Regions from separate parts of the Homo sapiens genome. Here all the other regions are reported to be linked to region 2. The links are microRNA targets in miRTarBase. Many come from high-throughput screens and were not tested one by one. Region 2 holds a microRNA gene; each other region holds the end of a gene's coding sequence.

The links. The annotated mature microRNA hsa-miR-2054 reads CUGUAAUAUAAAUUUAAUUUAUU and lies in region 2 at 1,598-1,620, opposite strand. An mRNA with a match to its seed (bases 2 to 7 or 8) in the 3' UTR can be bound and repressed. Matches are read on the target gene's strand: a 7mer-m8 pairs with bases 2 to 8, a 7mer-A1 pairs with bases 2 to 7 and ends in A, and an 8mer does both.
Region 1: the mRNA of SIKE1 is a reported target of hsa-miR-2054. Seed matches in the 3' UTR shown: 7mer-m8 at 1,691-1,697.
Region 3: miRTarBase lists NTNG1 as a target of hsa-miR-2054. Seed matches in the 3' UTR shown: 7mer-A1 at 1,782-1,788 and 7mer-A1 at 2,292-2,298.
Region 4: the mRNA of GSG1 is a reported target of hsa-miR-2054. Seed matches in the 3' UTR shown: 7mer-A1 at 1,691-1,697.
Region 5: miRTarBase lists VIL1 as a target of hsa-miR-2054. The part of its 3' UTR that is shown has no 7-base or 8-base seed match.
Region 6: the mRNA of N4BP1 is a reported target of hsa-miR-2054. Seed matches in the 3' UTR shown: 7mer-m8 at 2,622-2,628.
Region 7: miRTarBase lists MRRF as a target of hsa-miR-2054. The part of its 3' UTR that is shown has no 7-base or 8-base seed match.

Annotation. Positions count from the first base shown.
Region 1 is chr1:114,771,536-114,774,619 of GRCh38, forward strand. It overlaps SIKE1 (suppressor of IKBKE 1), which reads right to left. Exons shown (of 5, transcript NM_025073.3): 5 at 1-2,837. The coding sequence ends at 2,736. Among named protein-coding and RNA genes, the nearest start is that of SIKE1, 7.6 kb to the right of the region's middle.
Region 2 is chr4:125,505,795-125,508,878 of GRCh38, reverse strand. MIR2054 (microRNA 2054) reads right to left here and starts at 1,620; the gene lies at 1,572-1,620.
Region 3 is chr1:107,480,264-107,483,344 of GRCh38, forward strand. NTNG1 (netrin G1) reads left to right here. Exons shown (of 8, transcript NM_001113226.3): 8 at 348-3,081. The coding sequence ends at 577. Among named protein-coding and RNA genes, the nearest start is that of NTNG1, 340 kb to the left of the region's middle.
Region 4 is chr12:13,082,336-13,085,405 of GRCh38, forward strand. GSG1 (germ cell associated 1) reads right to left here. Exons shown (of 7, transcript NM_001080555.4): 7 at 1,197-2,908. The coding sequence ends at 2,566. FAM234B (family with sequence similarity 234 member B) reads left to right here. Exons shown (of 13, transcript NM_020853.2): 13 at 1-1,114. Among named protein-coding and RNA genes, the nearest start is that of GSG1, 20 kb to the right of the region's middle. RefSeq lists an enhancer at 2,269-3,070.
Region 5 is chr2:218,449,071-218,452,154 of GRCh38, forward strand. It overlaps VIL1 (villin 1), which reads left to right. Exons shown (of 20, transcript NM_007127.3): 20 at 153-3,084. The coding sequence ends at 266. It overlaps USP37 (ubiquitin specific peptidase 37), which reads right to left. Exons shown (of 26, transcript NM_020935.3): 26 at 1,181-3,084. Among named protein-coding and RNA genes, the nearest start is that of VIL1, 31 kb to the left of the region's middle.
Region 6 is chr16:48,540,082-48,543,165 of GRCh38, forward strand. It overlaps N4BP1 (NEDD4 binding protein 1), which reads right to left. Exons shown (of 7, transcript NM_153029.4): 7 at 1-3,084. The coding sequence ends at 2,823. Among named protein-coding and RNA genes, the nearest start is that of N4BP1, 69 kb to the right of the region's middle. RefSeq lists enhancers at 1,540-2,040, 2,041-2,541.
Region 7 is chr9:122,322,309-122,325,392 of GRCh38, forward strand. MRRF (mitochondrial ribosome recycling factor) reads left to right here. Exons shown (of 7, transcript NM_138777.5): 7 at 232-3,084. The coding sequence ends at 309. Among named protein-coding and RNA genes, the nearest start is that of PTGS1, 47 kb to the right of the region's middle.

The sequences.
Region 1 (3,084 bases), not on the chromosome of region 2:
TACAGTACCTGACAGGTAGTAAAGCACTCAATAGATGGTAGCTATTATTGGCAATACCATACATACTTTGCTTTTGTGGCACCAAAGTTTTCTATTTCCCTCCTACCCATTTATTATCTCTATTGAATTCTCAAGTTTAAAGTCCCTCTTCTGTATCTTATACATACTATAATGGATTTATCACACTGCATTATAATTTTATATATATACTTGTCTCCTGTACCAGACTTTTTCATTTTTAAATTCATAAGTACTAATGAAGTGGTTGGCACATAGACTATTTTCTTTTTCATCTTTTAGAGTGCTAACTATTACACAATGGGGCCTAGACTAGATATTTTAAAATCAGTGTCTTTAGGAATTGTTTGAGATGATTAGAATACAAATTCTTGAACTTCATCACCAAGTTTCTATTTCAGTAGGTCAGGGAAGCACATTTTGAAGAACACTAAAATAGACCTTCAATGTTTGAATCCAATTATGCATAAGGTATTAATATAAGAATTATACATAAGATATTGATATAATACTACACTAATATAAGGTACTATTTGTAGAGTTATACACTGCTGAATATACTGTGCTAATTACAAAGTATTTATGACTCTTGTGAGGACCACTTGACAAGGTTGCTATATATATGTAAAAAAACCCTCTGCACTTCCTCATTTGACTTACTACTGAGTAAAATTAGCTTATCTTCTCAAAATGCAGTTTTTGTTAGAAAATATAATTTTGAACTAAGATTTTTGCAAACCAGGCAAGTTCTTCATCCACTCAAGGAGAAACTTTAAAATCCACTTAAAATGAAGAGCATTCCTCCCCGACTCAATTTTCTAACTACATATTATCTTCATAGCATTAACACCAGCCAGAATTTATATTATGTAGAGCACTAAAAGCTTCTTAGACTTGTACCTCAGGCTTTTAATTTTGCAGGGGGAAAAGTTAGTATGTCGATTTATCCTAACACTTGAGATATAAAGAACTTTATAAACAGCTCTAAAGGAACATAAAGCACATAAAGGGACACCATATTATACCTTGATTTGATTACTTCATCATTTTCACTGAAATCTGGCCATGGTAGGTTTGGCCGTGGCTGCCAAATGGTATAGAGTACCTGCCTCTTGAATGGATTTATGGGGTCACTTAAGGTATACTTCGAGGCAGATGGCTGGGCTAATAGTTACTTACTTACTCTTGGGAAATGAAATAAAAAATGCTCACACTTGGAAGTGTTTTTTTTGTCAAATTCTATGCAGGATATCAAACAGAAATTTGAAAAATTCTTAAATGACATATACCTATTCATTAACACCCACTGCTCTAGATGACATCCATTAGTTATTACTGGGATCAGATGCTTTTAGGACATCTTTAAAATATTTTGTTATTTTAACTGTAGTTCTTTATAGCATTACGAAAGAAATATCACTCACATAAAGCACTAACAACTCTTTTTAGTACTGTGTCTCTCCCATGCAGTATGGTGCTTAATGTTACTGGAAAATATTGACAGGTTTAGCATTATTTCAACTAATTCTGGGCAAATCTAAATAGAATAGTATAACATGAAGAAATTTATAAATTTGAAATGTGAGTAAACTGGGACGGGAATGAGTTGATGAGTGAACCCAGTTGACCACTGGGCATTTGAATCTCAATGTTGCCTACACAGCATTATGAGTGTAATAATTTTCATTAGGTAACAAAACTGCTTCCTCACCTTTTTATATAGCTTAAACAAAAAAAAAGAAAAAAGATAAAAAAAAACCCTGCTTCTATGTAAACAAAAAAAAAGAAAGCCAACTATTAGTGCTAGGAATGAAAGACATCCAATCCAAGTAAGTGATGGTTCTTAACTATAAAATGGAAATTGTATAAAAATTAAAATAGAATGTAGAACTAGTAGGATAACATTGAAAAACTGACTACTTATATTTGTTTTTTTTATTTTGTGTGTGTTTTTGGCTGATTATATTTAATAAAAGCTACTTTTAGTATTTGAACTAAGTGCACATGTGTGCATTCACATACACAGGACAAGCTCCTCAGCTTTGAACAATATGAACTTTGGACAATATGACAACTATAGCATCACTGGGCAAAAAAAATAGCTGACTTATTTCCAAGTGTGTTTCCTGGGACTAGCAGTAGGTTCTCTCAAATTAAAAGTAAAGGCACCAGGCTATAAAGTGCCAATTCTTAGCACCAGAGAGACTTAAAATGTCACAGGTGAATGACATTACAAATCAGAGAATCTGCTGATCTAGTTCTGTGGAATTGTATTATTTTTGTCAAATGGAAAAAAAAAATCAAGGTTTATGCCAAATAGATTTAAACAGTTAAATCTTTCCTAAAATTTCCTAGAAGTGTATTTTACAATGCTATGTAAAATAAATTGCTGGCTTATAAAAAATGCTCAAAGTTTCAGAGATGTGAAAAATAACAAAGAACTGAAAACATAGTTTATATAAATCAAGGTCCCAGAAATGAAAATTAAAAGTAGTCTCTTTGAGAAAGGAATGGTGAAATTCAGCATGTAGTATTCACATTAACACATCTGAGAACTGTGGACAGCCAATATTGACTGGAATTCTAAATTGCCACCTGATACCTTTAATTAAGATTAAATCAAATCTGAGGCAAGACACTTAATGGACAGTACTTGAATGGGAAGACAGTAACTTCCTTCCTTGATAGACAATCTCCAGCCATCATTCAGAGTTCAGTTATTTGATGGCTTGGGAAGCAGTGTCCATTGAGTTTTCCTTTCTGGCTTGAAGAGACTCACTGCTGATGGACAATAATTCTCGAAGTTCCTTATTTTCAAGCTGGAAAAAAAAAGGCATGTTTATTTCTGGTATTTTTACTGTCCAACTGCATTACAACAACACATTATTTTGAGCCAGGAGCAGAAAACATTATTTTAATTTTAAAAAATTTATGGAAACAAAAAATCCACTAGTTGAGAATTTCCTTAAATACTACTTTATTCATTTAACAAACATTTACATGTAGGATGTAGGCAATGATACTCTTTTGTAGTAGTAATTTACTGAGTAATTTCTATATACCAAG
Region 2 (3,084 bases):
GTAGGAATTTTTTTCTTTCACAATAATGTATGAAAAATATTTCATTTCTTGAAAGGATTGCTTTTATATTGACTTGAATTTTTACAAAAATATCTGTTTTTGTCTAGCTTTAAAATCTTTTTATTTCTTAAAGTGAGACTATTTCTTATTAATGAAGTAAAAGTTAGGAATCATTTTCTCTAGATTATTTAGGAAAACTGCTATGAAATGTAAAATTCCAGAACCTCTTTTTACTTGATGTAGTTTTGCAAACAAAACAATTTTACTGAAACTTCCCACCTAAAAACAAAATGCTATGTCTTTAGATATATTCTTTCAAGAAATCACGGGGGACTTATATTGATTTCTTCATAAGGGAAAATTAATATAAATCAAAAATAAACAAGCAACCAAAAAAAACTGAAATCCAGACTTTTCTAACTAAGGAAGGTAATGATAAAGGAAAATGAATAAGTGTTTTCTTTGAATAGCTTAATGAGAGTCGCAGGAAAACAACGACCTATTTTACTATTAAAGTACTTATCTACAAAAAATTGTAATGGAAAAACTTCTGCTGAGCAGGCTAGCAATGGGTATCCCCTAGGACCCAGAACACTTAATGGGTTTTCAGTTCTGTTCTAAATGTTTTTTTTTTTTTTCTTTTTTTGCCTATTCTCAACCAGTGTTGTGCAAAATGTCAGGTTTTCTTCAACTTTCTTTTCTTCCTCCTTAGAAACTCTTGCCCTTTGTCAATTGTTTAGAGGCAGAAAAGATTACATTTCCGTACAAGAAGTCCAGATTAGTTGAAGACACTAGAATTCAAAGCCTGCAAAGATTATACCAAATGTATACGTATGCATTTTTAAACTATCTAGATTGCTCCCAACCTGTAAAATTTCAACAGACTCAAATTATATCTGTGCCTTGGAAATAAAATAGGTGATTAATTAGCCATTAAAGTAGGAGAATCAAAAGATCAGCTGATATCAGGATTAAATTGTCTTTTACCCCAAGAAGTACAATTTTAAAAAAATCTGGTTAGAGACCGATTAATCATGAAGTGACTCTTTTGGAGAAGTTTTGCTCTGAGTCTTTTAGTTTTGATAACTTCATGTCCTTGACTTTTTAAATAACACAATAAACTAGCTAACTTAAATTTTATTTTATTTATTGATATTTATATAAATATATGTCTATATAAATATGTTTATATAAATATATGTTTTATAAATATGTTTATGTAAATATAGCAAATTTATACTTGCTATCAGATTATCTGGTGCATTGCTGATTGCTCTGCCTTTCAGTGAGAGTCACTGGGGAAATTTATATCTCACCAAAAGAAAATTCTGTAATTTTGCTTCTGTTATTGATTATAAAACTGAGCAATATGAGAAACAGGAGAAAACTCAAGTCTACAAGGGACCATCAGTCACTTGGTTTGTCTGAATTAATTGTTATCTTCAGACAACCAGTTTGTGTTGCTCTAGCCTGAGTTTACTTACTAAATTTAGAAGCAGTCTCAAGCATTATTACTGCATATAAAACATAGACAGCTAATTACCCTCTGTTGAATATTTTAATATGCTCCTCTGTAATACATTTTTTAATGATAGAGAATAAATTAAATTTATATTACAGGAAGAAGGAGAATCTACACACTGGTGCTTCTTAATTGTTGCCAAAGGAAACCTAGCAAAAACTCATGGATTCAATGGGAGTATTAATAAGCCAATCAACAGATGGCTAATTGTACCACTGAAAAATGCAAATAAATTAATTCTCACTTGCTCTCATCTATTGGGAGATCAAAGTAGAATTATTAGTTTCCATCTCAATATATTTATATAATTTATACACCAAGATATTTTAGTGAAATAATCTGAAGTAGTAAAAGAGTATAAAGGATTATTCTAACATTTTGATACCACAAAGCATCTCCATTTTGGTATAGTTCTAACACCATCTTATAGTATTAAACTTGAAATTCAGAGCAATTAAATCTTTGTTTTATTAGCTTATTTGTATCAGGCAGGTTACAACGGCATGCTATAGTAGCAAATCATTCCAAGATCTCAATGGCTTAAACAAGGAAGGTTTCTTTGTCACTCATGTTCATGCCCATTGCAGCTCTGCTCCACATCCTCATCATTCCAATACCCCATTGGAAGGGGGAAATCTCTACTAAAGTGGTTCTGATGGCAGAAAGAAAGTAATGACGGAGGATCTAGAGGATGCTCTGAAAATATTTGCTCAGAAGTGTCACATATTACTTCCATACACATTTAACTAGCTAAAGAAATTCACATGGCCAAACTTGATGTCAGTGTGATGAGAAGTAACATTTCCCTACAGGAATAGTTTGTGCAAGAACATATAGCAAAAATCTGTATTATAATGTGGTCAATTCTTTAAGCATTTTTCTAAAACCGATTTATAAAACTTTTCCCCCAGTCCTGAAATAAAGTTCATAAGAAGCTCAGAAAAATTTTGAGTAAATACAGCAAAAAATTAGAAAATATTACAGTAGGTTATGAAAAAATACTGTCATATATTTATGTCCCTTAATCTGGCTTAAAGTCATAAGAAACTGACATTATCATTCTAATACTCTCCATAAGATTGAGGTAAGAATAGGTATTTTTGTTAGACTATTACTCTGCTTACAGCTCTGGTCTAATACTTACATGACTACATTTAGAAGAGTTTAATGAGCATCAGTTCACTTCCTATTCTGATTTTTTTTTACTCAGTCACATTGATAAATACATGGATAAATTATATAAATAAGTGTATTTAATTTTGAATAAATGAATGAAAAGTTTTAGAAATGGGGAAATGGTATAGTTGCCCCAAAATTGTACATAAATAGGTAAGAATAAGAAATGTCTGTATTAAACCCATGTTTTAATCCTAGGATGGACTCCTTTAGAATCATTGGCAATATTTTAAGAGCATCTCACTGTTTACTAAATACCAAAGCAGTGTTAGCACAAAAAGACATTGCTCCAACTATGAAGTCATCCATACAGCCTGCAAATTTGTCACTCAACACAATGAAGACTAGGAACGAAGCTCCAAAATAGAGAACTAGGGCTGGCAACC
Region 3 (3,081 bases), not on the chromosome of region 2:
AAAACCCAAAAGATCACAACAGGTCCCAGTTCCATGAAGAAAAGATACTGCCAAACTAGGACTATTGCATTACTTTGTATTCTATAGCCTGAAATGGACAATGATAACATCCAAGATTGCAGCAAAAATCTATATGAAAAGGACTAATATGATAAAAACAAAGGCAGAAAACTACATTTGTTTGGAAATTGGAGTCACGGGCTTCGTTTGTGGAGGGGAGGGGGGAGCACAAAGATCGATAGAGATTTTTTTTTTAGGCTGAAAACATGATGTACCAGATGAACTTCAATTGATTCTGCTTCTCCTCCCCGCGCCCACCCACCCCTACCTTCCCCCTCATTCTGCAGCGAATGTCTGCGACAACGAGCTCCTGCACTGCCAGAACGGAGGGACGTGCCACAACAACGTGCGCTGCCTGTGCCCGGCCGCATACACGGGCATCCTCTGCGAGAAGCTGCGGTGCGAGGAGGCTGGCAGCTGCGGCTCCGACTCTGGCCAGGGCGCGCCCCCGCACGGCTCCCCAGCGCTGCTGCTGCTGACCACGCTGCTGGGAACCGCCAGCCCCCTGGTGTTCTAGGTGTCACCTCCAGCCACACCGGACGGGCCTGTGCCGTGGGGAAGCAGACACAACCCAAACATTTGCTACTAACATAGGAAACACACACATACAGACACCCCCACTCAGACAGTGTACAAACTAAGAAGGCCTAACTGAACTAAGCCATATTTATCACCCGTGGACAGCACATCCGAGTCAAGACTGTTAATTTCTGACTCCAGAGGAGTTGGCAGCTGTTGATATTATCACTGCAAATCACATTGCCAGCTGCAGAGCATATTGTGGATTGGAAAGGCTGCGACAGCCCCCCAAACAGGAAAGACAAAAAACAAACAAATCAACCGACCTAAAAACATTGGCTACTCTAGCGTGGTGCGCCCTAGTACGACTCCGCCCAGTGTGTGGACCAACCAAATAGCATTCTTTGCTGTCAGGTGCATTGTGGGCATAAGGAAATCTGTTACAAGCTGCCATATTGGCCTGCTTCCGTCCCTGAATCCCTTCCAACCTGTGCTTTAGTGAACGTTGCTCTGTAACCCTTGTTGGTTGAAAGATTTCTTTGTCTGATGTTAGTGATGCACATGTGTAACAGCCCCCTCTAAAAGCGCAAGCCAGTCATACCCCTGTATATCTTAGCAGCACTGAGTCCAGTGCGAGCACACACCCACTATACAAGAGTGGCTATAGGAAAAAAGAAAGTGTATCTATCCTTTTGTATTCAAATGAAGTTATTTTTCTTGAACTACTGTAATATGTAGATTTTTTGTATTATTGCCAATTTGTGTTACCAGACAATCTGTTAATGTATCTAATTCGAATCAGCAAAGACTGACATTTTATTTTGTCCTCTTTCGTTCTGTTTTGTTTCACTGTGCAGAGATTTCTCTGTAAGGGCAACGAACGTGCTGGCATCAAAGAATATCAGTTTACATATATAACAAGTGTAATAAGATTCCACCAAAGGACATTCTAAATGTTTTCTTGTTGCTTTAACACTGGAAGATTTAAAGAATAAAAACTCCTGCATAAACGATTTCAGGAATTTGTATTGCAATTTCTTAAGATGAAAGGAACAGCCACCAAGCAGTTTCACACTCACTTTACTGATTTCTGTGTGGACTGAGTACATTCAGCTGACGAATTTAGTTCCCAGGAAGATGGATTGATGTTCACTAGCTTGGACAACTTCTGCAAAATATGAGACTATTTCCACTTGGGAAAAATTACAACAGCAAAAAAAAAAAAAAAAAAAAAAAAAAATCTAAGTGATTGCCAAGATTATGCCAAAGCCTGTTGGCAGAGTACTAAGAGACTTTTATTTTTAAGTCATGCTATTTTCACAGATTGATGGTGATCATGTGACTCTAGGGATGCTGATCTATGTATCTTTCCAAATACAGTGTTTACATGGAGTATCACAAGACGCAACCTGGGGAACCAGGAAGGGAGCAGGGAAATTGAGTGATTTGCAATTTGACTTTGAATATATTCAGACTTAAGTATTTAGAGGAAATATCAAAATATAAAGCAGCAAGTAGACATAACTGCTGTTCCTGAGAATAAAGTTTGTTTTAAGTGCTGCCCAAGGTGTAATAAATTCTTGTTTCTGCCTTTTATTAGGCCAATTACTGTGCAAGACAGCAAGGGGAGGCAGGTGGGGAAGAACCTTTGCAAAGTTTCAAAGAGGCTAAGACAGTGTGCATTTCGTTCCCAGCACACTGTTGTCCTACAGATTACAAGTGTATTAGCAGCAGCATCTCCTGGAATCAAAAACAATTATCAGCCCGAACCAGAGTCTTAAGGACAATGAAATTCTACATGACTTGGTAGAACAATAACCTATGATAGTGTAAGGTCAGAAACCTAGTTCCAGTCTGAATTCTTCACCCTGCTGCCACTCCTTGCTGAAACAGGGAAGGGGGGAGGAATGTCTCCTGATAAATAACCTGGGTAAAAACTAGATGAAGGAACAGCATGTCTTATTGGTTTTGTTCCCAGAAAAGCCAATTCGAAGAAGGCAATAAAAGGTAAACAGGTAATGCCTGTGCTGCCTGCCACCCCACGTCTAAGTCTATTGAATGTTTGTTATTCAAACCAACAGTCTCTTTTGATGTAAGAAATAAGGAAAGATGGAAATAAATTAGAGCTTAGGCTTAGTGCCAGAGTGGCCAACCAGAAATTGGAGATTTACGTTGGAAGCATAAATAGAAAATTATATTTCAGGCTCACCAAAGAAACACATGAAAATGCTGATAACATAGGGAGTTTGAGATTATTTATAATGAGGTGGATTTCTGATATTAAAATTAGAGTTTAAGTTGTCTTATAGTTTATTAGCACAAACCAAAGGCAGCCCATGTTATTTCTGGCAAAGATGCACTTTATCGTTATCTGCTCATGGCTTTGTCGCAACGCTCAGGAATCAGACACTGCACACTTCAATAGTTGGGATTCCAAAAGCTAATTCTAAAATTTAATGAAGGCCTGATTTAAACTGATTCATCTGCATTTTATCTTTATGA
Region 4 (3,070 bases), not on the chromosome of region 2:
TCTGTTAATTACCCACTGACAGGCATTATGACCTAACAGGAGGTTGGTAGCAGTAGATCCAAGCATGCATGTTGCCTGGCCTGTAGATTGGCCTTATCAGGTTTCTGGGTGCCTCTGCCTTAAGATCCTGAAGGCAAATTTTGTTTCAACAGTTTGGAAGTCATCTGTGGGTCCAGCTTGACTTTGGAGGAATAAGAAGATACTTCTAGAGTATGGGAATGATTCCAGATAATTTCTGGGATTTGAATCTACTTGAGTTTAAGGGCCTGGGACCTAATTTGGTTTAGTATAGAATTTGAAGAATTAATTTATAGGCAGCTGAATACCCAAAACTTGGGTGGTGGTCCTGTGGTTTGGCTGAGCTGTCCGGGCATAACCTGGTTCTCTGTTATGTTAAGGCTTTCTGGGAAGCCAGCCACTCTGCGCAGGAGTGAAACATGAAGTTGTTTTCTGAGGACCTGTTTTGGTGGGATTGTTTGGGCAGAGGACTGTGTTTATGCAGGGCAAATCCCAGAAAGATAAGAGGAAGCTAGAGAAACTTAATGTACCTGAATTCTTCATGGTGTATTTGCAAACTAACTTAACATAGATTCTTTTGACTATGGTAAGTTTGAATCTCTCCTTGCCAAACAACATTATAAGTTTAGTTTTCTTCTTCCTCTTGCAGCCGGTACAGAAAGGTGTAAGTGGTGGCTGAAAATTGAGGAAGCTTCATCTGACCAATGTGGGTGCTGGTTTCTTGTGAAATGTGTCCCTAAGCCTCCTTCTCCTTGCAGGCAGCCACCCACCCAGGTGTCTAAGATAGGACATGCTCCTTTCTTTCTCTAATCCCATCCTGAGGTTGCCGGCAAAGCCAATATGACCACTACTGAGAAATAGTAATGACTTCTACAAATGCAAGGGTCTTACCCTCCTCTTTCCCTTAAACACCCTCCCTTTTCCTTAGACCCCGTTTTTGCCATCCCCCAAATGTGTGGTATGGTGAAACTAATCCCCTGAATGTGAATTGCTATCCTTATTGCCCTATTAAAGAAGAGCCAGCTGGTATATTGTCAGGAAGCACTATTTAAAATGTGAACTGTTATAGAGTAAATAAATAAATACTCTACAGGAATACACTTGTGTGCCATTCTCATTCGTCTTAGTCATCAAGGATGGTTTGTTTCCCCATATGGAAAAGAGAACGGGCAAGTAGATGGGTGGCATTCTTTTTTTTTTTTTTTTAAGTTCTAGGGTACATGTGCACAACGTGCAGATTTGTTACATATGTATACATGTGCCATGTTGGTGTGCTGCACCCATTAACTCGTCATTTACGTTAGTATATCTCCTAATGCTATCCCTCCCCCCTCCCCCCACCCCATGACAGGCCCGGTGTGTGATGTTCCCCACCCTGTGTCCAAGTGTTTTTATTGTTCAATTCCCACCTGTGAGTGAGAATATGCAGTGTTTGGTTTTCTATCCTTGCGATAGTTTGCTCAGAATGATGGTTTCCAGCTTCATCCATGTCCCTACAAAGGGCATAAACTCATCCTTCTTTATGGCTGCATAGTATTCCATGGTGTATATGTGCCACATTTTCTTAATCCAGTCTATCACTGATGGACATTTGGGTTGGTTCCAAGTCTTTGCTATTATAAATAGTGCCGTAATAAACATATGTGTGCATGTGTCTTTATAGCAGCATGATTTGTAATCCTTTGGGTATCTACCCAGTAATGGGATGGCTGGGTCAAATGGTATTTCTAGGTCTAGATTCTTGAGGAATCAGATGGGTGGCATTCTTTATGAAGGAAATAATAGGGTACATTTCTCAGAAGGGATGAAAAGGTGGGATCCAGAGAGGAGCCTATGCCCCCTTGTTCACTGGGAAGTCCCTGGTGTGACTGTCCAGAAGGGAACCACAGTCCAATCTGAATAGCCTTGGTGGGCTATTTCTAGAAGTGACCCTGACCCTGTGTGCTGTTGGCGCCTTCTCATGTTAAACCACTCTCCTAAGGGCTCCTGGGACAATATTTAATAACACTTTTACTGGGTACCTACTGTGTGGATGCAGGACACTGTCCCAGGCAGTGTGGAGGACTTCTGTGCTATATGACAAAGCACTCAGGGGCGCTTCTGTCTTCCCATCTGTGACTTCCAGAACAATTCGCGCGTACCATGGAAAGTTGAGCCACAGTCACACTACCGTTAATTTGCTCACCTCCATTTCTCCAATTTCCAGACCAATAACTAGATGTATCAGATCCTTAAGGTCGGGAAGTGTATTTTACTCTTCTTTTTATCTCCATGGTTTAGCCCAGAACCTGGCACAGAAACTATCAGTAAAGAAGGGAATTCTGGATGTGTGAGATGTGGGGTGGGTGAAACAAGATGGAGCTGTAGAGGAAAAGAGAGCAGTGGCACCCAGGAATCCCTTAGGACTTAAAGATAACCCTTATTCATAGCCTTATTCGTAGCCTCTAAAAACCATGCTCAAGAGACGGATGTTGGCTTAAGCACATGTTGATAATCAGCAGACGTGTAAGGTAGGGCTCAAGCCTACTCCCCAAACCCGCTTAACTCCTAACACTGCTCTTCCTCTACAGATGACCTAACTGCTTCTTTCAGCTCCTGGCTGGCCCCTCTTTGAAATCCCTTGTTCCGCAGCTCGGAGTAGAAGTCGACTCCCTCAGAGACAGAGTGGATGGGCTGATTATGATACTGGTGGTAGCTGGTCAAAGGACCCACGGTGGGGGCTGCACTTGACAGCCGCCGAGGGAAACACTGATGGTGATGTGGTAGGCAGTTCGGGTTTTCCTTGAAGCTCTTACTATGCTTGCACTTGAACTCCAGCACCATCCTGGTGTACGTGTTGAAGGTGGTGACAGCCGACGCCATGCAGCAGGTGAAGGAGAGCCAGGCCATGCTAGGGACAAATGCACAAAAAGATTGGACAGTAAGAATAGGACTTTCTTGAGAGAAAAATGCCATGACCTCTTCCTACTAGTGGACTAGCTTATTGCCTTGTAGGGATTTAGGGACTTTCCACCATGTTTCAGGTAAAGAACTGTGGGAAGAGAACTTACTG
Region 5 (3,084 bases), not on the chromosome of region 2:
CCTTTCCTGGCTCTCCTGACACTGCTTCTGTTTACTCTTCATTTATTTGATTATATACCACATCTATGACTCATCAGAGCAAACGGTGCCTGAGGGTGAGGGAGGAAGGAAGGATATGTGACCTTTGCCCTCTGGTCCCTCTCTTCTTCTAGGAACACCTGTCCATTGAAGATTTCACTCAGGCCTTTGGGATGACTCCAGCTGCCTTCTCTGCTCTGCCTCGATGGAAGCAACAAAACCTCAAGAAAGAAAAAGGACTATTTTGAGAAGAGTAGCTGTGGTTGTAAAGCAGTACCCTACCCTGATTGTAGGGTCTCATTTTCTCACCGATATTAGTCCTACACCAATTGAAGTGAAATTTTGCAGATGTGCCTATGAGCACAAACTTCTGTGGCAAATGCCAGTTTTGTTTAATAATGTACCTATTCCTTCAGAAAGATGATACCCCAAAAGGAGCCTATGGTCCTCATTTCAACTTCTAAGGTCGCTAGATTGTTTCTATCCTGAGGTATTGCATCAATTTTAATACTCCTATAGTTTTCTCTTCTTAGAAGAGCACAAACACTCCATGGAACATTAGAGTTCTGAGGCACTACCCTAGCTTGTCCTCTATCATGACTCATTTTTATCTATGGCAGGTAGGCTGAAGCACTTTGCAGGTTTACATCTTCCCCAGAGTAACAGCTTTTCCTTTTCACATATACTTTCCTTACTGCCTTACTCAGTGGGTAAGTTAAAGGGCTGAAGGAGAGTTGAATGGTCCACAAGACTACCCTCTTAAGAGGTTTCACAAATTCCAAACAGTACCAGTGAGAGCAGCACTTCCACTGGGGCTAGGCTTGAGACCTAAAGGCAAGTATGAAATGCATATGCTACTTCACTCCCTCTCCCAACCCTTAATAATGAGGCAAAGCAAGAGCCTAGTGAAGGCCAATGCTAGGTTTACAAACTTACCCAGAAGCCTCTGCAAAGCTTCACAGGCTCCTCAGATGAAAATAACAGGAATCAATGGGGACTACGGCCAGACACTGGTTTGCCATTCTGTTCCTTTTAAGAAGTAACAGTGCTGCAAGGAAGTCCATGTCAGAAAGCCAACAGAAGGTGATTTCCACAACTTTGAACAGGTTGTTACAAGTATCAGCAAGAATGTGTCCTTTTCAGAAATAACAGTCAAATCAAAGAAGGTTAATAAAGGCTTTAATTTCATACACACAAAAAAACTCTATGCATAATTTAAAAAGGAAACAAAAACAAAGAAAAACCGTAAAGGATACAGAGGAACAGTTCTGCTAAAACACAGATAAAAGTGCCGCTCCATACAAAACATAAAGAATCAGAATCAAAAGTCACTCTGAACATAAAGAAAAAAAATCATCTCACAAATAATGTGGCCACAGCTGCCAGAAAACCTGGTAGTGGCTCAATTAGGCAAAGTGTAGGAATCTCATTTTTGTTTTTCTCTCCTTAAGTTTAAAGAAACAACAATGACAATAGGCCAGAGAAGTTAGGGAGGGAAAGAAAAGCTCAAAGGGAGGGAAACCTGGGGACAAGAGGTGTGCACACCCACATGTGGTCTCACTCTTCACACAGGCCCACTATTTTTGAAGTAGACCAGTTTAGTTGACTGTTCTTCTTTGTTCTGGCATCTGACTGGACCAACCTGGAACCTGGTCCAGACCCTCACCCACTCTATTCTTATGCCAATGGACATACCTATACTTTGAACCTCTGTACTTTTAAGAAAAGTCCAATGTTACAAAATCAAATGCTTATATTCAGACTGGCACACTTTTTAAATAAAAACTCCATACACCTCAGACATATAGCACACATGGAGACAACTTACTAATTGTGTGTAAGTATGATACAATGAATGAGACTGCCTGAAGTCTAGTAATCAAAGCATGCCATAAGGTGAATGATTGTGGTTAAACACAGCAAAATAATTGTCACAAAACTTTCAAGGCCTAACAAATTAGAATTTTCCAATAAAAAATATATATTTTTTCAGATGTTAATAAGACATATCAGTAGAGACAAAATTAGGATTTTGAAGTAATGCAATAAAAAGATGTTGGAGGGCAGAAGTCTATTTAGTTTTTGTATACACTTGCAAGAGTGCATTACTCAGTATAAAGCAAAATGGGGAGGAAAAAGACATCCATCCATTTTATTGGAACACTTTTATGTGACTTGAATCTGGTGTTAGGTTGTTGATTTTTCTAAAAATCTCCTATATATACAAAATCCATATGTACTTGGAGATCCAGCTGTTGCCCCCTGTTTAAAACAAAAGACCACCTCGGGGGGTCAATTAAATTAAAAAGGCCCTCCAACCACCCTAAATGGGATAACTAAGAGTATCTACTGCAGTCATTTCAGAGGACAGAGAAGGAAAATATTTTAATTTGCTTTAATATAACCTCTTTTCAGTAGATCACAAATGAGTTTACAAACTACTTTTTTTTCTCTTTAATTTAGGTGTTTGCAGATAATTTTCATTATATCCGTAGCTGTATGTGTGTATAGTTACATAATGGTAACTACACACGATACAGAAGAATCAGTAAATTCATGGATTATTTTGCTGAGGTTTTAAATTTTAAAGCCTCTGTTTCAGAATTTTATACTTGATCAAGGAGAAAAATAAATGTGTAGTCTAACATTTGCTTTCTGGAGTTAATTAACTGATCTGTAAGAACCACTGCATATGTCTTAAAATGTAAACATATTTACATTTGTTGTATTTGTTATTGAGCCTTTAAGGTTAGGCCCAGAATGAACAGACCATAGCAAGTAAACAAATAATTTTTAGAATCAAAGTATTAATAGAAGACCAGTTCATGGATTTGCTTATTCTATCCTGCTGAGACAAAACTCATGAGTGTGCACACACATGTGAATATATCCCTACGAAACAGTCTATCTTCTCATAGGCTTAAATTATAGTCATGGCTATTAAAGAAATTAACAGCATCCAGCCACATGCAACTTTCCAACCTTCAGTACTATTAGGTGATTAAAATCAACAAATATGAAGTTTAGTTCATTTTTCCCTTAAAATTCCAACAAAGATCAAAAGGT
Region 6 (3,084 bases), not on the chromosome of region 2:
CACTGGGGAGGAAGGTGATGAACAGACGGAGGTGAGCCAGAGACACCTCCTGGGCAAGTCGGCCAGGAGGCGGGAGGCGTGGGTCAGAGACACTGCAGGAACTGGGTGAGGACAAGGAGGTGCGAGGAAAGGGGTTGGGGGATGGTCCCACAGGCAGCCACACCTGAGGCGTGGGAGGCAGGTAGGAGCTGGGGGAGGGCGGGGAGAAGAGGGGTTTCTGTGTGTAGATCTGAGTCCTCCCTCACATCCCAGCCGTGCCACAAGCCGCATCGGCATGAGGCCGGCTCTCCCTTCTTCACTGGTCTCAAAAGCCACCCAGGCCCAAGTCCCGGCCAGACAGCCGAGCCTGCCTAGCAACGCTGACCGGCCGCCCAGGATGGCCCAGACACCTTCTGTCTCCTGAATGCAGCCTACAGGGGTTCAAACAGACTGCTTGCATTAAGGTCAGACAAGGCTCTTTTACTTCCAGAGACAGCGGCCTGGAGCCTCGGGAAGAATGTAGGCCCAGGAATCACCCAGCCCCTCAGGACAACCTCTCTGAGCAACAGACATCCTCCCTGTTGAATGAGAGTGACATCTCTGCCCTGCCACCTACTTTACATGGATGCCACGAAGTGGGAGAGCCTGAGCAGTAGACAGGGAAGAGGCGAGCGGCCCCACTGCAGGAGGTAGACAGGCTACAGATACTTATGCAGCAGCCACACTGAGGCTAGTACTGGAGGAGGCTGAGAACCAGTAATGAGTTCTTAATGGTTTGATAATTTGGGTTTTTAAATATTAAATATTAAATATCAGGGGTTTCGGAAGGAATGATGAATTCCGTCTCATGCTGTAACTGATGAAGGCAACCAATGAGCAATCCTTCCTTCCCATAGCCGAGAAAGGGAAAGGGGACAGGCCAATCCCTCTGAAGCAGTAAGTCAGAACACGAAGACTTACAGAACTCAAACATCAAAGGTCAAGTAGCTTCTAGCCAGGAAAAGTGGTGGCCCCCTCAGCCTAGCCAGCACCAACCAGCATGGGTGGAGACTCAGCCTGGCAGTAAGGGCATTTCCTGGGTTTCCTCTGAAGCAGAGGAGAAATAGTGGGTCAGCCAGGCTGCTGGACTGAACCATGAGCCAGAAGGCCAGAATCACTGCAAGACAGCTCCAGCCCGCACACCTCAGTTGTGCTTTTGAAAACAGGTACAAAGCTGAGGCATGGGAGCTGTGACTGAAGTCGCCCTCCTGGCTGGCCTCGTCTTCTACCTCTGCTTCCACAGCTGGGTGACTTGGCCATAGGCCCAAACAATGGACAACCAGTTCCACATTAGGAGGCATCACGGACGCATCTGAGAGGAAACATGATTGAAGGACAAGCTTGGCCTCATGGAGGGCTCTGGATTCATCCCTTGAAGAACGCAGTGATCAAACAAAACCAAGAAGCAGGCCTGGAGGGAGCACTCTGGGATGCCCCCAAGTCCCCTCACCATTTACAAACCAGCACTGAGTTCTCAGCCTCCGCTCCTCAGGACTAGGAGACAAGATCCGGACAGGCAGGACAGGCAGCAAGCCGACTGTGAGCAGCCTGGGGGCGCAGGTGTAAAATACAAAGCCCTTTGAAGGTCCAGACAATAAGAGTAAAGATGTTAAGATTGCCCAGGAAAAGAACTTCACTGACACTGAATTTGGGCAACACCTAGAACAGACAATATTAAGATATCAATTCTGAGAAAGACTCACAGGAAAGGCTGTTTAGGAGGACACTAGAGACAAACACAGGGAAAATAAATACAGGGGCTCTGGGATCCCCCCACAGAAGCTACTAATGCTATTTATTGGCTTGGGTCACTTTTGAGAATAGAAAACCATTTTTTGGCAAAGCTGTACAAACTCCACATCAGGGCGTCTCCTGCAGTTGGGGACACAAGATGGCCACAGTGACCGGGCTCTTCATTAAACTTCCTCATAACCCGCTACGGTGTTCAGAAGCTAAGACGTGACTTCCAGAGCCAGGCCAGGCATGTGGAGGCCCCTGACTGTGGGCGTGTCAAGCCCTGGCTGGGGAGCCTGCTGCCTGCCCGGCCACTCCTCAGCTGTGGCTGTGGCTGTGGGCATGGCCGGACGGCGTGCACACTGGGCCGTCCCCTTTTGCGCAGGGTGGAAGGGGGAAGGAGGGTGGGACTCCATGGGCTCCACGATGTCTTCTAGCCCTGGTATTCTGTGAGACTAACTTCGCCCTGGTCATTCACCATGGCTAGGCACCAAGTGCCATCTAGTGGCACCGCGGGTCCACTTTCACAACACTCCAACCAAAGACTGCAGAACAAACCAACTCTTACCCACTTTAACTCCGGGGGTGAGGGCAGAGGAGGCTGGAAGGGTGAGCACACTTCATGGTAGTGATGGGACATACTCATCTCAAGAAAATATACTTTAAGACGTCTTGCTTTCCTTAAGAAAGCAACACTTTTTTTTTTATTTATTTATAAAGGCTAACCATATCCATTTGTCAATATTTTCGGCTTTAAGGAAAATAGTTTAAAAAACATAAAAAGGTAAATACACTCAAGAGTAACTGCTATTAAACAGTTCTGAACAGGCAGAAAATGTAGACTTTCCTTTAACAGAAAATGTTAAATCTGTAATAGCAGCATAATTTATATATAGAAAAAAGCTGGTTTTGAAAACCCAGATTTATACCCAAAACATTTTTTTTCTGTACAACTGCGTTTACACTGGGAAATAAGTTTCTTCACATTATGTTCATTCCCATCAGGTACAGGTGTGAGCTTGAGTTTGATCAGCCAGCCCTGAGCGCAAGCTCAGCGCTCAGCACAATCTTCAATCCAACACCATGGCAGAAAGCGCATTTAGATCTTTCATGTATGGGTGGGCCACCAAGATCTGGTCTATTTTCAGTCTTTGCTCTGAGTCAGGGAAGATCTTCAGAAGGGCTTCCCTCAGCTCGTTGGTTTCTGCAGAAGATCTCTGAGCTGGCATGGGCAGGTTCTGCTGGAGACTGGGGAGGGCTGGCAGCAGTGGGAAGTGGGGCTGCTGAGGGAGCCAGTGGCTTGAAGGGGCTCCCTGAATCCGGGTCGGAGGC
Region 7 (3,084 bases), not on the chromosome of region 2:
GCCGAGATTGCACCACTGCACTCCAGCCTGGGCGACAGAGCGAGACTTTGTCTCAAAAAAAAAAAAAGAATGTATATATAAAGTTCTTAGTACAGTGCCTGACTGGTACTTAATGTGAACTTTTGTCACTATTATTATTTCTCACATAACCTTTTCATGTTTCTGGAATATTCATCCCCCTACCCTTTTCCAGCCCCATTAATCAGGCTGTCTCATTTTGTGTTCTTGCAGATCAGCCAAATGGCCGATGACACAGTGGCAGAACTGGACAGGCATCTGGCAGTGAAGACCAAAGAACTCCTTGGATGAAAGTCCACTGGGGCCAGCAATACTCCAGAGCCCAGTTTCTGCTGGATCCCATGGGTGGCACATTGGGACTTCTCTCCCTCCCCCATCTACACAGAAGACTGTCACCATGCTGACAGAAGCCTGTCCTTGTAAGGCCCAGCCTTCCAGGGGAACACTCAGACATGTTCATTCTCTTCCTGCTTCTGCTCTGGGCCGGTGGGTGGCTCTCAGAAAATACTTGCTGCTGGCAAAAGGCCTGTACTCAGGCATTTGCTTTGACTTGATGTTGCCAAGGGACTGAGGCCATTGGCAGGCTTAGTACCACCTGCTCCTCATCTTAGGAGTCTCCTTTTCAAATAATTAGGCTCTGTTCCCATTTTAAAACTCTGATATTGGCCTTCACCTGTGACTGGACACTTTACTAGAGGCCCATTTTCACTAAACAATAAAATCTAAATAAATTGGAAGGAATAACAACCACAAAGGAAAGAATAGAGTTGGTCTGGATTGATGATCACTGAGGATCTGTATGTGAGGCACCCATAACAGTAGTTTTGCCTGTGAGTCGTCTTCACACATGCTGTTTTCTCTGCCTGGCTCTCTCTTCCCCTCCTTACCTGGCCAGTCCTGTTTATCATCAGGCCTTGTCTTGGATATCACGTCCTCTGGGAAGTCTTCTTTTCCCCTCTAACCTAGGACCCTCATTACCGGCTCTCATAGCACAGTCTACTGCTTTGTACGAATTCTAAGTATTCTTGTTGCACTTAATTAGCCTGTATATCCTCAGAACTTTGTGTAATGCCTGGAGCATAGTAGGCAGTCATATGTTGTATCGTGAATAAATTGCACATAGTAGCTACCCAGCAAATGCTGACTTCTTTTCTTTCTAGTCTTAACACTCCCTTTCTATCATTTTCCACTCTTGTACTTGTTCTCAACATTTACTTGGTAGTGACATACCTTTCCTGCAGGGCCTGCCCATTGTTGACAGACAAGTAGTTTATTGTGGCTTATCTTCGGATACTGGGTTATTAGGTTTTTTTCCCTCCAATTATTTTTTATTCATTCATTCATTCCTAATATAGCCATTATGAGTTAGGTATAGTTCTAGGCATTATTTATAATCTTGACAGTAAACTTAAGAGATGTGTATTATCTTCATTTACAAATAGGAAAACTAAGTCTTGACAGTATTAGGTAATTTGCCCAAAGTAACAAAGCAAAGCTGATCAGTGGTAGAAGGTTTTCATGATTCATTGTCAGCGTCATTTACATAGAGGTGAAGTTTCTTGTGCAGGGTTACACACCTAGCAAGTAGCAGAGCTGGCATTCAAATTGAGGCCTGATGTGCTAATGTAAAAGGAAAAAAACAAACTTTTTTTCCTTTTGTACTTTCACACTCAACATGGAACACTTCTGTGACAAGGTGTGTGAGTTTGTTTCCCCCACACACCAAGCAATTCTCCAGCAGACACCAACTGGGTATCCTATAATTCAATTCATTTCTGACATTACCTGGAAATAGTGTCAGATCCCACAGGTTGAGGGCTCCATCTCCCAAGACTGCCAACACTTTTGATGCCAGTCATGAGTCTGGGCCACCCATACTCCTGACTGACCAACTACAAACTAGAGTCCTTGATTTCCTTTGGTTCAGTTAATTTCCTAGGACAGCTCACACAACTCAGGGAAACACGTTCACTGGTTTATTATAAAAGATACAGCTGAACAGCCCAATGAAGGAGGTACACAGGGCAAGGTTGAGGGAGAGGGAGAGGGTGTGGAGCTTCCATGCCTTCTCTGGGCTCACACTCTCTCAGCACCTCACCAATCTGGAAGGAACCACTGTGTCCTGCTGCCTTCATTAGCATTTAGTGAGCACCAATTGTTTGTCAGGTGCTGAACTATGTACTGGCAATACAAAAATGGGAAAGATATGACCCCTGTTTTGGGGGGGTACATAGTGCACTGAACTAAATTGCTGTCTATAATAATCTATTGGGTGGAAAAGTAGGAAGTTCATTCCAGTTCTGCAAGGTGTCTGCTTTCAGAATGGAGCCCACTTTGGTGGTGGCAAGGCCTGGCTGAGTTCTTTCAAAGCAACATCCAACTTCTCTTTGCTCTTTGACTTCCTCCAGATTCTCTCCTGTGCTGGAGGTAATAAGGGTTGCACTTCCCTCTTTACTTACACTGGTGAAACATGCAGTGAGGATTCAAGGTCAAAATTGGGTCAAAGTTAAACTAACACAGTCTCCTGCCCCACTTACCTGTCCTCTAACCCCATCCACCAGCCCTAAGTGGTCATCACATGATCAGAAGTCAGCTGGGGGAAGAGCAGGGATAGATAGAGCAATTAAGGAGCCTCTTTTGGGGTAAGCCACATGACAGGGGCTTTGCAACAGTCTTTCATGAGTGGCCGAAATCCCCCACTCACTGCAAATGTGCTTCTCAAAGATGCAGGATTTTTTAATAAACAGAGGAAATGATAAATTATGTTGTAATTCCACTCCAAAGGCATTTGGTTCTTAACAGCCAAATCCTCTGTAGTCTTTAAATAAACAAAAACTTATTTGGTGAACAGACAGGGAGGAAAATGAAAGATTTTCTGTACTTGGGTTCCACATGTCAACAATTTCTCTCCTGTGTGTATGTTGGCCAAAGCTGTATCATGATAAATGAATAAAGGAAAACCTCGAGCCCAGGGCAGTCAGACAGCTCAGCAAATGGCTTTCAGATGATTACTCAATTTCAGTTGACATTTATCAAAGAGTTTCTCTGTGACTCTGTGTCAGGGCT